2 separate regions of the Homo sapiens genome follow, and region 1 is linked to region 2. Evidence: fine-mapped expression QTL. A gene starts in region 2. The other region holds a variant in brackets. All regions are shown on one strand. Distances are from middle to middle.

What was found. PIP is the estimated chance that this variant, and not a neighbour inherited with it, causes the effect. A credible set is the group of variants that fine-mapping cannot tell apart.
Region 1: its variant is the best candidate, but not a certain one, in a credible set for the expression of ITGAE in whole blood (TOPMed, PIP 0.72).

The regions. Positions count from the first base shown.
Region 1 is chr17:3,713,639-3,723,289 of GRCh38, reverse strand. It overlaps ITGAE (integrin subunit alpha E), which reads left to right. Exons shown (of 31, transcript NM_002208.5): 28 at 1-2; 29 at 2,888-2,983; 30 at 6,492-6,602; 31 at 8,348-8,662. The coding sequence ends at 8,443. It also overlaps a transcript of P2RX5 not described here. Among named protein-coding and RNA genes, the nearest start is that of HASPIN, 5.4 kb to the left of the region's middle. The variant G/A (reference allele first, on the strand shown) is at 4,076.
Region 2 is chr17:3,797,417-3,807,067 of GRCh38, reverse strand. ITGAE (integrin subunit alpha E) reads left to right here and starts at 5,880. Exons shown (of 31, transcript NM_002208.5): 1 at 5,880-5,957. The coding sequence starts at 5,924. NCBP3 (nuclear cap binding subunit 3) reads left to right here. Exons shown (of 13, transcript NM_001114118.3): 13 at 1-4,910. RefSeq lists enhancers at 8,104-8,153, 8,164-8,223, 8,404-9,302.

The DNA of each region.
Region 1 (9,651 bases), 84 kb after region 2:
AGGTGTTTGAGACTGAAATGCTCCAGATTTGATTATCCAGTTGCTCACGGGCATCGCCCCTAGAAGAGATAATAGCATCTTTGCATAACATGTCCATGTCCAAAATAGATCTTTTGGTGCAAAAAACCAACCCTCTGTCCCAACCCGTTCCTTAGCTACCCTCAGGAGGGAGATATACTCCAGTTACAGTACAAGGAACTCGAGGGATTACCTGTGACTCCTCTTTCCTACATCCCCACGTCTATTCCAGCAGCAAGCCCTGCCATTTCAGGGCCAAAATATATCCTAAACCCATTCACTTCTCTCCATTTCCACTGCCGTTGTAATTCAAGCTACCCTTTCTTGCCAGGGCTGTTGCAATAACCTTCGGCCTGCCTTTCTTGCCTCTGCTTTTCCCACATTCTTTACAAATAATTCCCACGTAACAGCTATCCGTCTTCTAAGAGCAGACATTAGATTGTGCCATTCCCCTGCTTATTAAAAATAACAAACAAACAAAACTGATGCTTGAGCACACTTAGACTAAAATCCATACTTTTTTCATGGCCAGAGCAAGGCAGTACTTGATCTGGTCTCTGCTTAATTCTTCAACTTCATCTCCTAGTACTCGCCTTTCTCTCCCACTGCCCCTTTTATAATCGGGTTATTCTGTCCTATTCTTCTAGCTCGCCAGTACAGCATTATTCTGGCCACAAGACTTTGTACTTGCTGTTCCTTTGCTTGACACTGCTCTTCCTCTAGGTCCTGACGTAGGTGGTTTCTTCTTAAATTTAGCTCAGGTGTTCTTTTCTTTTTTTTTTTTTTTTTTTTAGATGGAGTCTTGCTCTGTCACCCGGGCTGGAGTGCAGTGGCACGATCTCTACTCACTGCAACCTCCGCCTCCCGGGTTCAAGTGATTCTCCTGCCTCAGCCTCCCGAGTAGCTGGGATTACAGGCGCCGGCGACCACGCCCAGCTAATTTTTGTATTTTTAGTAGAGAGGGGGTTTCACCATGTTGGCCAGGCTGGTCTCGAACTCCTGACCTCAGGTGATCGCCCGCCTCAGCCTCCCAAAGTGCTGGGATTACAGGCGTGAGCCACCGCACCCGACCTAGGTGTTCTTTTCTTTTCTTTTCTTTCTTTCAAGACGGAGTTTCGCTCTTGTTGTGCAATGGCACGATCTCGGCTCACTGCAACCTCCGCCTCCCGGGTTCAAGCGATTCTCCTGCCTCAGCCTCCCAAGTAGCTGGGATTACAGGTATGCGCCACCATACCCGGCTAATTTTGTATTTTTAGTAGAGATGGGGTTTCTCCATGTTGGTGAGGCTGGTCTTGAACTCCTGACCTCAGGTGATCCGCCCTCCTTGGCCTCCCAAAGTGCTGGGATTACAGGCGTGAGCCACCACGCCCGGCTAATTTTGTATTTTTAGTAGAGATGGGGTTTCATCGTGTTGGTCAGGCTGGTCTTGAACTCCTGACCTCAGATGATCTACCCACCTCAGCCTCCCGAAGTGCTGGGATTACAGGCATGAGCCACCACACCCGGCCACACGTGTTATTTTCTTAGAGAGGCCTTCCCTGATCACTTATTCTAAAGTGGGAACTAGTGATCAAGTGATCAAGTTTAATGTTTTACAGTGATCCAGGTGACATTTGTGAGGTCTCAACTGAAGAAGTAGCAATGGGGGTGGAAAAGAAAGGGACAGATACAAGAAATAATTTAAAAAAAAAGAATTGTGAGTGTGGTGGCTCACATCTGTCATCCCAACACTTTGGGAGGCTGAGGCGGGAGGATTGCTTGAGGCCAGGAGTTCAAGATCAGCCTGGGCAGCATAGTGAAACCCCATTTCTTAAAAATAAATAAATACATAAATTAGCCACGCATGGTGGCTCATGCCTGTAGTCCCAGCTACTTGGGAGGCTGAGGCAGGAGTATCGTTTGAGCCCAGGAATTTGAAGCTTCAGTGAGCTATGATTGAGCCACTCCATTCCGGCCCGAGTAACAGAGTGAGACCTTGTCTCAAAAAAAAAAAAAAAAAAAAAAAAAAAAAGGAAAAATCTCTTACGTTAAATAAAATGAATAAGCTGGGTGTGGTGGCTCATGCCTGTAATCTCAGCACTGTGGGAGGCTAAGGTGGGTGGATTGCTTGAGCCCAGGAGTTTGAGACCAGCCTGGGCAACATGGTAAAACCCCATCTCTACAAAAAATACAAAAATTAGCCCAGTGTGGTGGGGTGCACCTGTGGTCTCAGCTACTCAGGAGACTGAGGTGGGAGGATCACTTGAGCCTGGAAGGTTGAGGCTATAGTGACCCATGATCATGCCATTGCACTCCAGCATGGGTGACAGAGCGAGATCCTGTCTCAAAAATAAGTCAGTCAGTCAAGAACTGACTTTGGATGGCACAAGGGAAAAGAAGTTGAAGAAAAGGCCAGGCGCGGCAGCTCACGCCTGTAATCCCAGCACTTTGGGAGGCCGAGGTGGGTAGATCATCTGAGGTCAGGAGTTCGAGACAAGCCTGGCCAACATGGCAAAACCCCATCTCTACTAAAAATACAAAAATTAGCCTGGCATGGTGGCACATGCCCATAATTCCAGCTACTCGGGAGGCTAAGGCAGGAGAATCGCTTGAACCTGACGGGGTGGAGGTTGCAGTGAGCCGAGATCGCACCACTTCACTCCAGCCTGGGCGAAAGAGCGAAACTCCATCTCAAAAAAAAAAAAAAAGGAAGTTGAAGAATAACTGCAGATGTCTTGTTTGGGTAACTTTATGTAGTGTTGTGTACGTTAGGGCCATTAACTAAGCCCAGGAATACCTTTAAAGGGAAAGGTGGTGAAGGCTGTTCAAACACAGTGAGTTCATGTCTAAAATATGTTTTGTTTCCCTCATTCCTTTCCCCATCTTCTAGTTACTAAAAGATGTAACTGAACTGCAGATCCTTGGTGAAATATCTTTCAACAAATCTCTATATGAGGGACTGAATGCAGAGAACCACAGAACTAAGGTAATTCCTGGCTGGCTTCTGAGTAGTGCCCAAGGAAAATTGTGCCTAACCTTTGAGCACCTCCACAGACATTCTGTTGCCCTCTTCCTGTTTTCAGCCTTAACACTTCTGATCTTGGCTCTGCCATCGCTGCCTTTGTGACCTTTGAGTGAGTCAGCTTCTTATGAAATAAGGCAATTAAGAGGCCTAAGCTGAGGAGTTCTGAGTTGAAATAACTAGGCTGGAATCTGCAGTATATACTTTGATTTGAAAATGGATTGATTAAAAAAAAAAATTTCGCAGCTGGGCGCAGGTGGCTCACGCCTGTAATCCTAGCACTTTGGGAGGCCGAGACAGGTGGATCACCTGAGGTCAGAAGTTCAACACAAGCCTGGCCAACATGGAGAAACCCTGTCTACCAAAAATACAAAAATTAGCCGGACATGATGGTGGGTGCCTGTAATCCCACCTACTTGGGAGGCTGAGGCACGAGAATCGCTTGAATCTGGGAGGCAGAGGTTGCAGTGAGCCGAGATCACACCACTCCACTCCAGCCTCAGTGATAGAGTGAGACTCAGTCTCAAAAAATAAATAAATAAATAAAAAATGAATTACCTAAGTGAGAAATTGTTTTTTGTATCCAGTAACTGTCTTAGTGTGCTGTATCAGTGTTTAGTTATAGTATTAAACAGTACTCAGGAATGCATAAATCTTTTATAAGATTTAGACTAGATACTGGAACTCTTGGAATTCTTTTTGCAAAAGTATGACTAGAAGTCAGACTGATGCCTGTGATTTGTGGACTGAATGCTTTGTGTGTTACCCTGTGTTTTCATTCTTGTTGACCCTTGCCTGGACATGGCTTCAGAGGTGATCTATCTGTGAGCTCTGAGCTCTTTAGTTAGGCATGATTCTCTACTAGAGGGAATGTCAGGAGAGTGATGCTGGATTGCTAAATATAAGGTCCTCTGTTTTCCTCCCTGGAGGAGGAGAAAGGAGCAATTCTCTAGACATGCCAATATAACATTTCCTTTTATTTTTAAGTAGTGTATTTCTTTTTCTTTTCTTTTCTTTTTTTTTTTTTTTTTTTTTGAGGAAGAATCTCACTGTGTC[G/A]CCCAGGCTGGAGTCCGTTGGTGCCATCTCGGCTCACTGCAACCTCCACCTCCCCAGTTCAAGTGATTCTTCTTCCTCAGCCTCCCGAGTAGCTGGGATTACAGGTGCCCACCACCATGCCTGGCTAATTTATTTATTTTTTTTAAATAGAGACAGGATTTCACCATGTTGGCCAGGCTGGTCTCGAACTTCTGACCTCAGGTGATCTGCCCGCCTTGACCTCCCAAAGTGCTGGGATTACAGGCATGAGCCACCATGTCCGGCTAAGTAGTGTATTTCTAATACAGAAAATAGAGGGAAATGGAAAATACAGAAAACGGAAGAAATAGAAGTGCCCCATTATTGCACTGCCCAGATTTTAACAAATAAAAATAATAGCAAGAAAATCCAAGCCATACAGAGAATGGTACCAAATGAAAAATAATTGTTCCTTCATTTCTCCCTTCCCATGCCCCCAGCAGGGAGGAGTTACTATTAAGTTTCTTATGTGCACATTTTAAATTTGTATGTTTCCCCCTCTTACTTACTGATACTTTTATTTCTATAGCATGGATTCCCCAAAATTCCTTTCTTTAAATCCAATATCCTAAGCAAAGTGTTAAGTAGTTCCTGACAATAAGCCCCTGACTTACAGTGACTCTATGAGTATAAACAAACTGTATCCAAATGCATTTCAGCCACAAGAAAGGGAAAATCCAGCTCATGCAGCATAAGGGCATATGCTGTTTATCCAGTGAGGGAGGCCGGCCTGGGGCGATGGCCTGGCTTCTTTGGTCCTTGTACTCTGCCGTGTGGGGGACGCATTCCTTCATGGCCAGCACAAAGTTGCCACATCTCCAAATGCTGTATTTTCACATGGCAGGATACAAAACAGGAAGCAAGAAGTCAGTAGCAAAAGGATGTTGGATTTTTCTTCATGTGCCTTCCCTTTTCAGGGATGAAACAGTTTCCAAAAGCTCCCAGGAGACATCCTCTTACATCTTATTAGTGAGATCTGAATCTCATGTCAGTCACTGGCAAAGGAGAATAGCTGTGTCATGATCACCTGAGACCAACGATGATTCCTGAATAAAATCCAAAAGGAGAGAGGGGCCCCTGGGCAGGCCAGCATCCGTGTTTGCTGCAAACAGTAGTACCCGGTGCCTTGCTTCTCCCTTAACCTCTACTTGGGCATCTTTGGGGCACTTTTGGGAATCTGTGGGTTTAGAAGAAGATAAAGGGAGGTGGCTTTGAGAAATAGGGACATTTCTTCTACTCACATCTGGCCTGTTTCCCGAGTCACCTTGGGACTTCCTTTCACTTCCCAAACCCAGGGTCTTGAGTCCCCCTCCTTCTCCTGTAGAATATTCCAGCCCTCTTTCTGTTCTTCCTCCCTCTTTGTTGCTATGGTACCTCCCTATTCTCAAAGCCTAGGACTTCACTCCTATTTAGTTCAGCTACCTATGAGCTAAATAGGACTGGAAGGTCAACTTTAGGTCAACCAGCATTTATAACTTAATTGGAAGAGGCCTTAAAGGTAAGTTTGTCCAGCCCTTCACCCCGTACAGAAACCTCTCCAAAGCACCCCTGACCTTGGTGCTTAAACATACACGTGAAGGGTTGCTCTGGGCAGGCAGAGAAGTCTTGTTGGCTCTCTGGCCCCACCTAAGTCCTGGGAACTTCCTCTGGCCACAACTTGGAAGGGCCATACCTGGGTCTCAGGAAGGACATCTCCTGAACTTTCTAGCTGAGCCCTGCCAGAAGAGAGATTAGACTCCCGAAATTGGGAGAGCCTTTGGAAAACAAAACCTGCGGATGACTTCTAATAGCTGAGCTCTGCAAGTAGTACACATGGATATAATTTGCATTTATTATGTCCCTTAGGTAATACACACTTTTTAGTCTGGTGAGGGGAAGACCAGTACTTTTGTCATATTTTATGTGGGGAAAGTGTATTACCAAAGCCTTTAGGGATCTGTGCAAGATCAAAAAGAGCCGTCAGAACGGAGTTGGAAAGGACTTGGAGATCATTTAAAGGAAGTCATCATTTTAAAGAGCATAGGCACGGGGCTCAGGGACATAGAGCAGTGTAGCGGCGTGACAGCCTCACAGTCCTGTGTTGAGACCGGATTCCGTGGGACCCTCTTTCAAGCTGTCAGAGCATCTTTAACAGAAGGTCATAATCTCCTGACAGACCTAGCCCTTCTAGATAAGGGGCCAGAATAGTTTCTTACGAAGTATTTGGGTGATTGGATAGTTTTAGATGATCTAAAATGCTGCATCAGGGAATATCTAGCTTTTTGCTTTACTGTCATCAGCTTTGATCAATACACGGGTTGTTGCCAAGTCCTCGTATTTTGCTCCTTAAAATAACATGTAGGATTTTTTCCTTGTTTGCTTCACCTGATTTATTGGGCGATCTCTTTGTCTTGTCTAGATCACTGTCGTCTTCCTGAAAGATGAGAAGTACCATTCTTTGCCTATCATCATTAAAGGCAGCGTTGGTGGACTTCTGGTGTTGATCGTGATTCTGGTCATCCTGTTCAAGGTCAGTTCTACTCATGGCATCACAGTGAGGGAAGACTGGGCTCTAGTTTTGGGCACAGAACTCCTTAGGACAGCCAACCTCTGACTTAGAGCAGCTGCCCTGGCCTCGTGGCCACTTTTTTCTCCTCCTTCAACTGCACACCCCCATTTAGACAAATGAGTAAAACAGTATCTGTCTGAAAAGAGAAAACTCTGAGTTATAAAGAGTGATTTTATATATATTTCTTTGGTACCTCCCTATTCTCAAGGCCCAGAACTTAATACTGTTATGTTCGGTTACCTGTGAGTTCAATAGGGCCTGGAAGGTCAACCCTAGGCCAGCATTTATAACTTACTTGGAAGAGGCCTTAACGGTAAGGCCTTAAAACAGATGTGACTGTTGTTCCCCTGTTGAAATCTTTTCCTTGCCTTCCCCTGTCTTAATGTGCAAACTCTTCTACTGCTATTTAAGATCCTCTCCTCTCTGTCCGCTACCCGTCTCTGCCCTTAAGTGTTGCTTTTTTTTCTTTTTTTTTTTTGAGACGGAGTTCCGCTCTTTCGCCCAGGCTTGAGTGCGGTGGTGCGATCTCGGCTCACTGCAACCTTCCCTTCCCCCCACCCTGACCCCGGGTTCAAGAGATTCTCCTGCCTCAGCCTCCTGAGTAGCTGGGATTACAGGAATGTGCCACCATGCCTGGCTAATTGTTTTGTATTTTTAGTAGAGACGGGGTTTCACCATATTGGCCAGGCTGGTCTCAAACTCCTGACCTTGTGATCCTCCCGCCTCGGCCTCCCAAAGTTCTGGGATTACAGTCATGAACCACCACTCCCAGCCTCTTTTTTAAAAATAAACACCAGGGTCTTTGTCCCCCAAGCTGGAGCTCAGTGGCACAGTTAAGGGCTCACTGCAGCCTCGTACTCCTAGGCTCAGGTGATCCTCCCATCTTAGTCTCCTGAGTAACTGGGACTGTTACTCAGGTGCATGCCACCACACCCAGCTAATTTTTTAATTTTAATTTTGTGGAGATGAGGTCTCCCTATATTGCCCAGGCTGGTCTCAAACTCCGGGGCTCGAGCCATCTTCTCATCTTGGCCTCCCGAAGTGGTGGGGTTACAGGCATAAGCACCTGACCTTGCTTTTTTCTCCCAACAAGTCAAACTATTCCCTAAATAGGTTCGTGCCTCTGCGTACGCGTAGGCTGCTTTTCTTGTCAGGAATGCCCTCCATGACTGCTCACTTCACTCACTGTCTTCCCTGAAAGCGGTCTAGAGACTCCTGAGTCCTCTGTGCTGGCTTCTGTGTGTTTGCTGTGAGCTCCCTTCTAGAAACCCTTCCAAATGGCAGTCATCACACTGTGTTGTAATTATCTCTTTTTCCTACTAGATGATGAGCTTGATGTAGGAAGCTGTACTTGATCTCCTTCTGTCTTCAGCATCATAGGCTATACTGAGTATTTTTGCATAAATAAGATTAGATCCAGTACAGCCGAAATTATCATGCTTTGCAAAATAAGTTAAAAAGGTTCAGCTGCTCGGGAGAGCAGGGTTCAGAGGAAGGTGGAGTCAGTTCTGATTGAGGGATGAGCACCAGAGGTCTTGAAGGATTGGACTCTCCAGGAGAGATTCAGAGTAAGTTAGGAGAAGGGAGTAGTAAGTATGAGAAGCAGAGGAATATAGGGGCTATTTAGGCAACAGCCAGAATGCCGGTTTTCTGAAACAGATGGCTATCTTTGGCCTGTAACTGGACTTTTCCTTCCTTTGTTTCAGTGTGGCTTTTTTAAAAGAAAATATCAACAACTGAACTTGGAGAGCATCAGGAAGGCCCAGCTGAAATCAGAGAATCTGCTCGAAGAAGAGAATTAGGACCTGCTATCCACTGGGAGAGGCTATCAGCCAGTCCTGGGACTTGGAGACCCAGCATCCTTTGCATTACTTTTTCCTTCAGGATGATCTAGAGCAGCATGGAGCTGTTGGTAGAATATTAGTTTTTAACCATACATTGTCCCAAAAGTGTCTGTGCATTGTGCAAAAAGTAAACTTAGGAAACATTTGGTATTAAATAAATTTACACTTTTCTTTGCAGTAGTGCCTTTAATCTGGAAATACAGTATTACTTAGGATTTGCAGTACATTTTGCCTGATAGGGCAAGTTTTCATTCTTATTTTTAAAAAATGATAGATTGTGGCCGGGCATGATGGCTCACGCCTGTAATCCCAGCACTTTGGGAGGCTGAGGCAGGCAGATCACGAGGTCAAGAGATCGAGACTATCCTAGCCAACATGGTGAAACCCCATCTCTACTAAAAATACAAAAATTAGCTGGGCATGGTGGCGGGTGCCTGTAGTCCCAGCTACTCAGGAGGCTGAGGCAGGAGAATCATTTGAACCTGGGAGGCGGAGGTTGCAGTGAGCCGAGATCGTGCCACTGCACTCCAGCCTAGCAACAGAGTGAGACTCCATCTCAAAAAGAAAAAAACAAAATAGGCGGGGTGCGGTGGCTCACGCCTGTAATCCCAGCACTCTGAGAGGCTGAGGCAGGTGGATCACGAGGTCAGGAGATGGAGACCATCCTGGCTAACACGGTGAAACCCCGTCTCTACTAAAAATAAAAAAAATTAGCCGGGTGCGGTGGCAGGTGCCTGTAGTCCCAGCTACTCGGGAGGCTGAGGCAGGAGAATGGCGTGAACCTGGGAGGCAGAGCTTGCAGTGAGCCAAGATCACGCCATTGCACTCCAGCCTGGGCAAAAGAGCAAGACTGTCTCAAAAAAAAATTATCGATTGTATCCTTTCAGATAATTCTTAAGTATCAATTTTTCAGATTTCCAGAAGAAACTCTTTGGGGTTTTAATTTAAACATACAGGTTAAGTTTGGGAGCATTGATATCTTTATAGATTTCCTTTCTACTCCGCTTGCTGCGATTTATTTTTTAATTTTTATTTTACTTTATTTTTTTTTTTTGAGACAGAGTTTTGCTCTTACTGCCCAGACTGGTGTGCAATGGTGTGATCTTGGCTCACCGCAACCTCCGCCTCCCGGGTTCAAGCGATTCTCCTGCCTCAGCCTCCTGAGT
Region 2 (9,651 bases):
GTTACGGTGAGATGCTAACACACGCTTTAGACTTAAGTCAAAATTTACTGTGAAGCCACAGCAAACCATGGCTTCACAGATGAATTAGTTGCTACACAAATAAGTTCGATACATAAGTACAGTAATTGCTTTTAAACCTTATAATAAGCAGTAAATTAGAAGTTAAACCATGTTTTTCTTTTACGAACTGAAAGAAGAGAATGCTTTTGATACTGAGAATCGCACACTGTGTCCAGGAAGATTGTTCTTGCATAACCAGACCCACAATAAATATCTACAACTTTTCTTACATGTTTATAAAATAAATCTTAGAAGAAAAATATTGTAGCTTTTTTTTTTTTTTTTTTTTCAATGAAGCTCTATGAACATTTCACAGAACTTTGTTCCTGGGAGTAGTTAGGGAAATGCTGCTTCAAAAAGCCAATTTTAAGTAGTTGTGAGGCATCCGAGTGGAATTTGGCTGCACTATCCATAAAACTTGAGAGTATAGGCGGTATTTCACCTACCAAGGTCAGTACCCTGCCTCAGGATTCTTACTGTTCATTTGAGCAATTCCGGGGCCCTCTCTGGATGACCAGGTTCGTAAATAGTTGAGACTTTGTGTTATCTCAAATTGTCACCATCACCTCTGGGCCAATATAGGTTAGTGAGGTCGAGAGGCCCACACCATTGACAGAAGAGAATTCTCAGGCCGGGCTTGGTGGCTCACGCCTGTAATCCCAGCACTTTGGGAGGCCGAGGCGGGTGGATCACCTGAGGTCAGGAGTTCAAGAGCAGCCTGGCCAACATGTTGGAACCCCGTCTCTACTAGAAATACAAAAATTAGCTGGGCGTGGTGGTGGGTACCTGTAGTCCCAGCTACTTGGGAGGCTGAGACAGGAGAATTACTTGAACCCGGGAGGCAGAGGTTGCAGTGAGGTGAGATCGCGCCACTGCGCTCCAGCCTGGGCGACAGAGCGAGACTCCGTCTCAAAAAAAAAAGAAAGGATTCTCACCTTCCTGTCCCTTCCTAGGAGTTTTGTGGTAGTGTTCGATCCTGTGATGTGGCCATCTTCTCCTCAGGGCCTGTGAGAGGCAGGCAGCATCTTTAGCTGAGGTAGAATGCCTGTTGGGGAAAGTCAAATAGGATGGTGGCTGGGGCCGGGGCTCTGGGGACTCCTTCTGCCCCACATACTCAATTGGAAAGACTGAGCAAGTCCCCTCACCTCCCTGGGCCTCAGCTTCCCTGTCTGTCAAATGGAGGGCTCAACTGGGGTGAGCTCCAGTTTCCTTCTAGTGCTAACGCGTGTTCAAGGATCCTTGCTCTCCTTTCCGGGGAGCATCAGGGGTGTGGGCTAGATAGCAGGAAAGAAGTAGGGGTTTGTAAACAAGAGATCCAAGCCCCTGGACCCTTGGTCCCAGCACCCAGTGCAGCCCTCGCCCTCCCAGCCCCTTCCTTAGAAAGGACAAGAAAATCCACTCCTTGTTCTCTCCCTGTCCCATCACCCCCGCAGTCCCCCACAGATCTGAGGCCGGAGGATGCCAACATGGTGAGCACCCTCTTGCTGTCTTATTCACGTAGGCTTTTCTTGGTGCCTGCACATGGCTCTTGTAAGGCCACCAATCTTGCTGGATTATGACCTCATCTAACCTTAATTACTTCCTAAAAGCCATATGTCCAAGAAGAGCCACATTGGGGGTTAGGGCTTCAACATATGAATTTGGAGGACATTTACAGTTCAGTCCACAGCACCTGGTCATGTGGAGATCCCAGTCTGCATTTGTGGGATGAAATCTCTGCTTTTTTAAAGTTTACACACCACCTAGCTGGGCACGTGGCTCACACCTGTAGTCTCAGCACTTTGGGAGGCCGAGGCGGGGATCACCTGATGTCAGGAGTTCGAGACCAGCCTGGCCAACATGGTGAAACCCCGTCTCTACTAAAAATACAAAAATTAGCCGGGTGTGGTGGCGGGCACCTGTAGTCCCAGCTACTCGGGAGGCTGAGGCAGGAGAATCGCTTGAACCCAGGAGGCAGAGGTTGCAGTAAGCTGAGATTGTGCCACTGCACTCCAGTCTGGATGAAAGAGCAAGACTCCATCTCAAAAACAAAAATAAAAAAAGTCTACACACCAAAAGAGCTGAAGGCAGGAGAGTTTGTGGTGGTTCAGAGTCCTGATTCTGGAGGAAACAGGCCTGTTTGGAGTCCCAGCTCTGCTCCTTACTAGCTATGTGGCCTCTCAGAGGCAGCATCCTTATCTGAGAAATCGGGTTGACCTTGTAGGTGGCTGAGAGGCTCAGATGAGGGCTCGCATGTGAGGCCTTGGCACTGAGCAGGGCACTCCTACCGAGTGTTCAAAGGTCGTGAGTACCACTGCTCTGCAGCCCTGGGCTCTGGTCTCAGCAATGCCGTCACTCTTTCTGGCTTCCTAAGAGTCAGAAGGCAAGTGGGAGAATAGAACCATTTCCTGTGTCTGAAGGCTGTGCCTCAGTGCTTTTGACTCACTCTGAAGACAGCAGGCAGCCCTTTCTGTTTTTTTTGGAGATGAAGTCTTGCTCTTGTCGCCCAGGCTGGAGTGCAATGGCGCAGTCTCGGCTCACTGCACCCTCCGCCTCCCAGGTTCAAGCAATTCTCCCACCATAGCCTCCCGAAGCTGGGGCTACAGGCACACGCTGCCACGCCTGGCTAATTTTTTGTGTTTTTAGTAAAGACAGGGTTTCACCATGTTGCCCAGGCTGGTCTCAAACTCCTGAACTCAGGCGATCCGCCTACCTCGGCTTCCCAAAGTGCTGGGATTACAGGTGTCAGCTACCACGCCCGACCCACAGGCAGCCCTTTCACCTCACGCCGAGCACGTCTCCTCCATCCATGAACATTTTGCAACTTTTTTTTAAAGAGACAGGTTCATACTATGTTGTCTAGATTGGACTCAAACTCCTGGGCTCAAGCTTTCCCAAGTAGCTTGAACCTCTTAAGTAACTGTGACTACAAGTGCACCTGGCCACTTTTTCTGAGACGGAGTCTCGCTCTGTCACCCAAGTGGAGTGCAGTGGCATGATCTCCGCCCACTGCGAGCTCCGCCTCCTGGGTTCACGCCATTCTCCTGCCTCACCCTCCTGAGTAGCTGGGACTACAGGCACCCGCCACCACGCCTGGCTAATTTTTTTTGTATTTTTAGTAGAGACCGGGTTTCACCGTGTTAGCCAGGATGGTCTCGATCTCCTGACTTTGTGATCCGCCCGCCTCGGCCTCCCAAAGTGCTGGGATTACAGGCGTGAGCCACCGCGCCTGGCCCACCTGCCCATTTTTTAAAAACTTTATTCTTCCTGGTATCAAGGGGAGAAAGAAAAAAATTTTTTAAAATATTTAAAACTTTATTTTGAAATAATTTCAAAATCACAGCAGTTTGAAGGGTACAACAAAGAACATTTTGCCACATTTTCTCTTTCATTCGTTCCCTCCTCTTCTCCCTCACCCCTGTTTCTTCCTATCCTCTCTGAACCATGAACCATTTGAGGATTATTTGTATACATCATGCTCGTTTATCCGTAAGATGTTTTAGTGAACATTTCCCAAGAACAGGGACAGCCTCTCACATGCCCATGGTACAGTTCTCAAATTCAGGAAATGTGTAATATTCTCTGATCAGCCCAGGAGTTGCTAATTTGTAGTTCCTGTTTCAAATTTGCCAACTGTCCCAATAATGATTTTGAAAGCCGTTGTTTTTCTGGTCCAGGATCCAATCCAGGATCAAGCGCTGCCTTTAGTTGTCCTCTCTGCAGCCTCCTTTCGTTTGGAGCAGGTCCTCAGCCTTTCTGTCTTTCATGACATTGATGTTTGTGAAGAGTACAGTCCAGTTTCTGTTGTAGAACGTCCTTGAAGTTGGTCCCGGAATATTTGTTTAAAGTGAGTTGGGAAACCACATTCACATGTCTTTTGGTTATGTGTGTATTTGTCAAACAGCCAGCCTTGTGCTGCGTGCTGTGATGGGGAGCATTACTCAACAGAGCCTGGCCCTGACCTTGGGGATGTAGTTTGGGTTTGTGGGGAAAGCAGCTACCGCCAGGTGGGCTTTACGGACCCCTGTGTGTCTCATGACTAGAGGCACTGACGCTTGGATAAATACATACTGGATGGATGCAGGATGAGTCCGCATTCTAGAAGTGTGCAGAGGTACAGAAGTGGCCCTGCTCCCTGTCCAGCACCCAGTCATCAGCTTTCCCTGGCTTCCCGAGGCACCCTGACGTTCACACTCCAAACACAAAGTCTTCTCTCAGGAATCTCGAGTGAGCTGCAGTCTGGGTTCTAGCCCTGCCCTAGCAGGGATCTGCTCAGTGACTGGGCTGCTCTCTTCCTGCTTTAGGCCAATGCGGGGGAGAGGAGACCACTGTGACTCTCCCCAGTGCCCTTGGAGCGCAGAATGAAGTGAGGGGAGGAGGAGGGTCACGAGCCCTGGAGCGCTGGGAAGACAGGCTGTAGGCCGCAGGCCCCGATCCTGCCTGGGACGAGGTTCAACAGAAGTAGGATGGTTTCATCATGACCTGGCAGGAAAACCACCAGACCTGGAATTTTGCTTTTACAACTGTTTAACTTCTGTTTCATACAGGATGGAAACCGGTGAATTGTAATCTCACATAACCGAGCAAGATCTAGTAGTCATAAGCACTTTGTCAGAGCAAAGCAGACAAGGCAAAGTGTTGGAAATGTCATCGGATCTTCACAGAACCTTAGCCAAGCAGCCTTTCAATGCGAGAAACAAAATAACATGGATTTTTATCTAGTAATGAAGTCAACACCATTGTCCACCCTGGGTTAACACATTCACATCTCAAAGCGAATGGGGCTGCAGACACTCGTGTTAGAGAGCCTTGGAATGTCCTGCCTTTTTACGTTTAATTAAAATTAAATAAAATATACAAAATTCAGTTCATCAGTTGTTCTAGTGGCATTTTAAGGGTTTAGTACCATATGTGGCTCATGAGTACCATCCTGGACAGCGTCGACCTAGAGCAGTTCCATCCCCGCGCAGAGTTCTGTTTGACGGCGCCACTCTGCACTTCCAGCAGCCTGGGGAGCAGGGGTGCAGGAGAGTTCCTTCTGTGTCACAGACTTGGTCACACAGTACAGATCTCAGATCAGCACTTAAACACGACTGCCAGCTGTCAACGGCGTGTTCTGTGGAATGCTGGGATGCATCACAGGTATGCTGGAAGATGTATAGAATTTTACTTCTGTTATTCTGGTAACTCAGAGTCCTGTTCAGTCAGTTTCCACGTCAGGTTGCTGTCCTGGTTTTAAAGAGAATGAACGCAGCCGAAGTTGAATCGAGGCAGTGATTTCACTCAGTGCGTTGGGTCTTTCCACTCACCTGGCCCTCCAGAACCCCAGGGCCTTGAGTGCATGGGCTGGTACAAGAGCCCAGTTTTTGGCTGGGGAGGCACTTCCTATGGGAGGGGGACGCCTGTCTCAGTGCTGAGGCAACCACCACCGAGGACCCTGGGCTGGAAGCTGGGCTGAGATGTCTGGTGGTAGGTTCTGAGGCAGGACAGGGGACCGACTCAAATGGATGATACGAACGGCAGGCTGGATTCACGTTGCTCCTGCACCTCCAGCATCTGCTGAGGACACCTAGAACTGTGGCCCTGGCCAAACCTCAGCTCCCTATTCCATGAAAGTGTGGGTCAAAGTGTGGGTGGTAGAGTGGGGCTGACAGTGGCCCCTAAGCTCCTAGGGTCCAGCCCACAACTGAGGAAGCCACACGGCTGGTTGTGTACGAGCCGGAGTGTCTCTGTTTGGTTGAAAGTGCCGGTCTGTGGGTCCTTGCTGGTGTGTGTGCTTCTGTCCCCGCCTCCTGGCCTCCTGGCTGAGGGGAAGCTGAGTGGGCCACGGCCCATGTGTCGCACTCGCCTCGGCTCCCACACAGCCGCCTCTGCTCCAGCAAGGATGTGGCTCTTCCACACTCTGCTCTGCATAGCCAGTAAGTCCTCTCACCCGCTGCTTCGAGGGGCTGCTGTGCCCTCAGCTCCAGCCAGGTGTCTGCAGACTACAGCCTTGACTGTCTGTCTCTGATGGGGCTCAGTTAGAGCCAGAGGTTAGAGAGTGGCAGCTCCTCCAGGAAAGGAGTCTTGCTCGGTGGGTCAGGGCCCCAGGCTTGTTGGGAAGGGCGGCTGAGGCTTCGTGTTGCCAGTTCTGTCAGCCAGGGCCTTTGGACTCCAGGGCTCTGCCATTCTGTTCCTCCTCCAGCCAGCCTCCCCCCGCCACCGAGGCCCTCTCCCCATGGCACCCACTTGGGGCAGGTCCTTGACTCTGTAGTTTGTTCTCTGAGTGTGGAGGCTCCGCCTGGCAGAGCTCCCTTCTGTTACAGAGCAGGGGTTGGGCTGATGAGGGTGAGGACCCTGTGAGAGAGTGTTGACCAGAGACTGGGGGCAAGTGTCTGTATGGTAGAGGGTGTGAGTGTTGGCAGGGAGCCTGCTTCCTGTGTTGTCAGGCCCAGGGTAAAAACTGGAATGTGGGGTGGGGGGAGGCACTTCTGCTGCCTGGGGGGTCCCATTTTAGCCTTTAACTGTCCCATGGAAGCCTCTGGGCAAGCCAAGCCATGAGTCCTTTCGGGGGCCCCCTGTGATGAGACAGCACGGTCAGGTGAGCCCCTGGAGGCTGCTAAGATTAAGCCGGAGGCCAGGGTGGTCCTGCCTAGTGATCTGAGCAGACTTCCCATGGGTCTCCTGCCCCTGCTCAGGAGGTTGGCCGGAGAATTGGATGGGCATCAAGCTTATGTGGATGAAAGGCTCCTGGTAGCTGAGTTCTCCCTGAAAGATGGGCTGAGGCTGTGCTGGGAGGGGACTTGGGATTAGCATCCCACCTGGGGCCAGATCACCCAGGAAGCAGGCCACAATGTGTAGGGTACCAGCAAGGAACACGTTTTTGGACAGATTTTAATATTTTATATTTCATTTTATTTTATTTTATTTTTTGAGACAGAGTCTTGCTCTGCTGCCCAGGCTGGAGCCCAGGCTGGATCTTGGCTCACCATAACTTCTGCCTCCCAGGTTCAAGCAGTTCTCCTGCCTCAGCCTCCCGAGTAGCTGGGATTACAGGCGCCTGCCACCACGCCTGGCTAATTTTTGTATTTTTAGTAGAGACAGGGTCTCACCATATTGGTCAGGCTGGTCTCCTGCCCTCAGGTGATCGACCTGCCTCGGCCTCCCAAAGTGTTGGGACTACAGGCATGAGCCACCTTGCCCGGCCTAATATTTTATATTTCAAAAACATCAGAATAGTCACCATGGAAAGGTCAACAGTTTGTTGAACTTCCTTTTATTTTACAATTTAGACTTCTCTGTTTTTAGTTACATGTGGGGTGTGGAGAGAGTCTCACTCTTTTTATGGCTTGTGGCTTTGATCTCCCATTACCAAGAATATCTGGAGCAGATGCTTAGACTAGACTCTTGTCTACCCTCTCCCAGTACAGAGGAGGTGACTGGGGCACAGAGCGGGCAGTGACTACCCAGGCTTGCAAGCAACTGATAATAGACACGAGGCTCAAGCCCAGGCCTCTGTCCTGCCTCCCAGCTCCAGAATACTCCTGTGGCTCATCTGTCTCCTTTAGCCTCTGAGACCACCACCCATCACCTCAGTGCCTTTTCCAGCAGGTGGCATCGATCAAACCTCTTTTGAGGCCTAGGCCCTTCCCAAGCTGATGGGCAGCAGAGAGCGATGATGGAGCAGACTTGCCATGAGACCACTTAGCCCACAGCTCAGCTCAGCCACGGGAAGGGGACCAGAGCAGGGCCCCCGCAGCTCCGGTGTGGGTGGCGGAAACGAGGCTGCTGCAGTTCTGCTCCATGCTGTGAGGTCCTGAGACTAGGATGGGCCAGTCCAGGAGAGTTTCCTGGAGGAGGTGAGGTGGCGTTGAGTCTTGGGGGCTGAGGAGAGTCTGAGAAAGAAAATGTCCAGGAGATGCTGGGAGGAAGAACTCCCTCAGACTGTGGCTCCAGGCCCAGCACCCTGTACCCTGTGCCGGGTTGGGCCTCCTTAGGCTGGAGAGAATCCAGGACTGGCCTGGCCTGGCCCTGACCTTCCACTCTCTCCAGGCCAGCCACTCTGGTGATGCCTACTTCTTATTTGTGGCAGCAGACGGAATAATAGCAGTTGTCTAAGGGAGATTTTAGAAGCATTGGGTGCAGACAGACACTGAAACCCTGGAACTGTCCACACCCTGACCACCAGCCCCATCATGCCCTCTTACCCTGTGGCCTGCTGTCCCCAAGTCAGTCTTCACCCCTGACTCATTCTGCAGTCACATCAACTCACTTCTCCATCCTGGGTCTCAGAGGTTGAGTTTCCACCCTTGCGTGAAGAAGCCTGTCCTGTCAGCCTACAACACCTTACAGGGGTGAAGAAGAAGGAACCAGAAGTCCAGGGCCCGCTCTGCTGGTGGCACGCACTCGGGCTGAGGCCAGGGGCTGTGCCGGGGCATCACCCCGGGCCTGTGCGTGATAGAAAACCTCAGTCCTTGGGGAGTGGGAGACTGTAGCATCTGAGGTGGGCTCTGAAGGACGGGGAGGTCCTTGGCAAGTACAGGCTGGGGGTGAGCAGAGGGGCCTTCTGTGCAGGGGGGATAGGAGGGACCAAGCCCTGGGGTGTGAAGAGTCTGGTTTGTAGGAAGATGGAGGCGAAGTGTGAGTGGGAGCAGGAGATTGTCTCCTCTGGTGTTGCTTTCCCTTCCAGCCCCGCCCCAAATCGGGACATGCTGGGCCCTGGAGGTGCGGGCAGAGGCGAGGCCACCCCTATCCCAGCCCCTGTGTGAAGAGAAGGCAGGTTGTGCACACAGTAGCCTCCCCGGCCCCGGCAGGGTGTCACAGCACGGGGGTAGGGAAGGGGCACTCCAGGCAGAGGGGCAGCCCAAGCAAAGGTGAAATGCCCCCGGAATGCAGTGTGTGGGGGAGAGCTGGCTGGGGGAGTGTGGGCCGTGTGGGAGCCCCACATCCCTGCCCTTCTCTGGGAGGCCTGCATTCGTGTGGCAGGTGTGGTATAAGTGGAGGAATGCGGGCATCCAGTCCCGAGAGGCCCACGGTGGAGGTGGTGAGGAACGTGGGGACCTGAGTGCCGGCCTGGGGGAGCTTGGAGTTCCTGCTGAGGGCAGTGGGGAGCCACAGAAGGTCTTGACCAGGATGGCGACAGAATTGTATGTTGTGTGTTAGTTGGAATCTGGGGGAGAGGGGAGGCAGAGAGGCCCGTGAGGAGGCTGCTGCCTTGGCCCCATCTGCGGCTGTTGCGGAAGGCAGACGTGGGGAGGAGGACACACTCATGAGAAACGTTTAGTTTCCTGGCCAGGCACGGTGGCTCACGCCTGAAATCCCAGCACTATGGGAGGCCAAGGCGGGCAGAGCACTTGTGATCAGGAGTTCAAGACCATCCTGGCCAACACGGTGAAACCCCGTCTCTACTAAAAATACAAAAATGAGCCAGGCATGGTGGTGCGCACCTGTAATTCCAGCTACTTGGGAGGCTGAGGCAGGAGAATTGCTTGAACCCAGGAGGCAGAGGTTGCAGTGAGCTGAGATCACACCACTGCACTCCAGCCTGGAAGACAGAGAGAGACACCGTCTCAAAAAAAAAAAAAAGGCCAGGCGCAGTGGCTCAAGCCTGTAATCCCAGCACTTTAGGAGGCC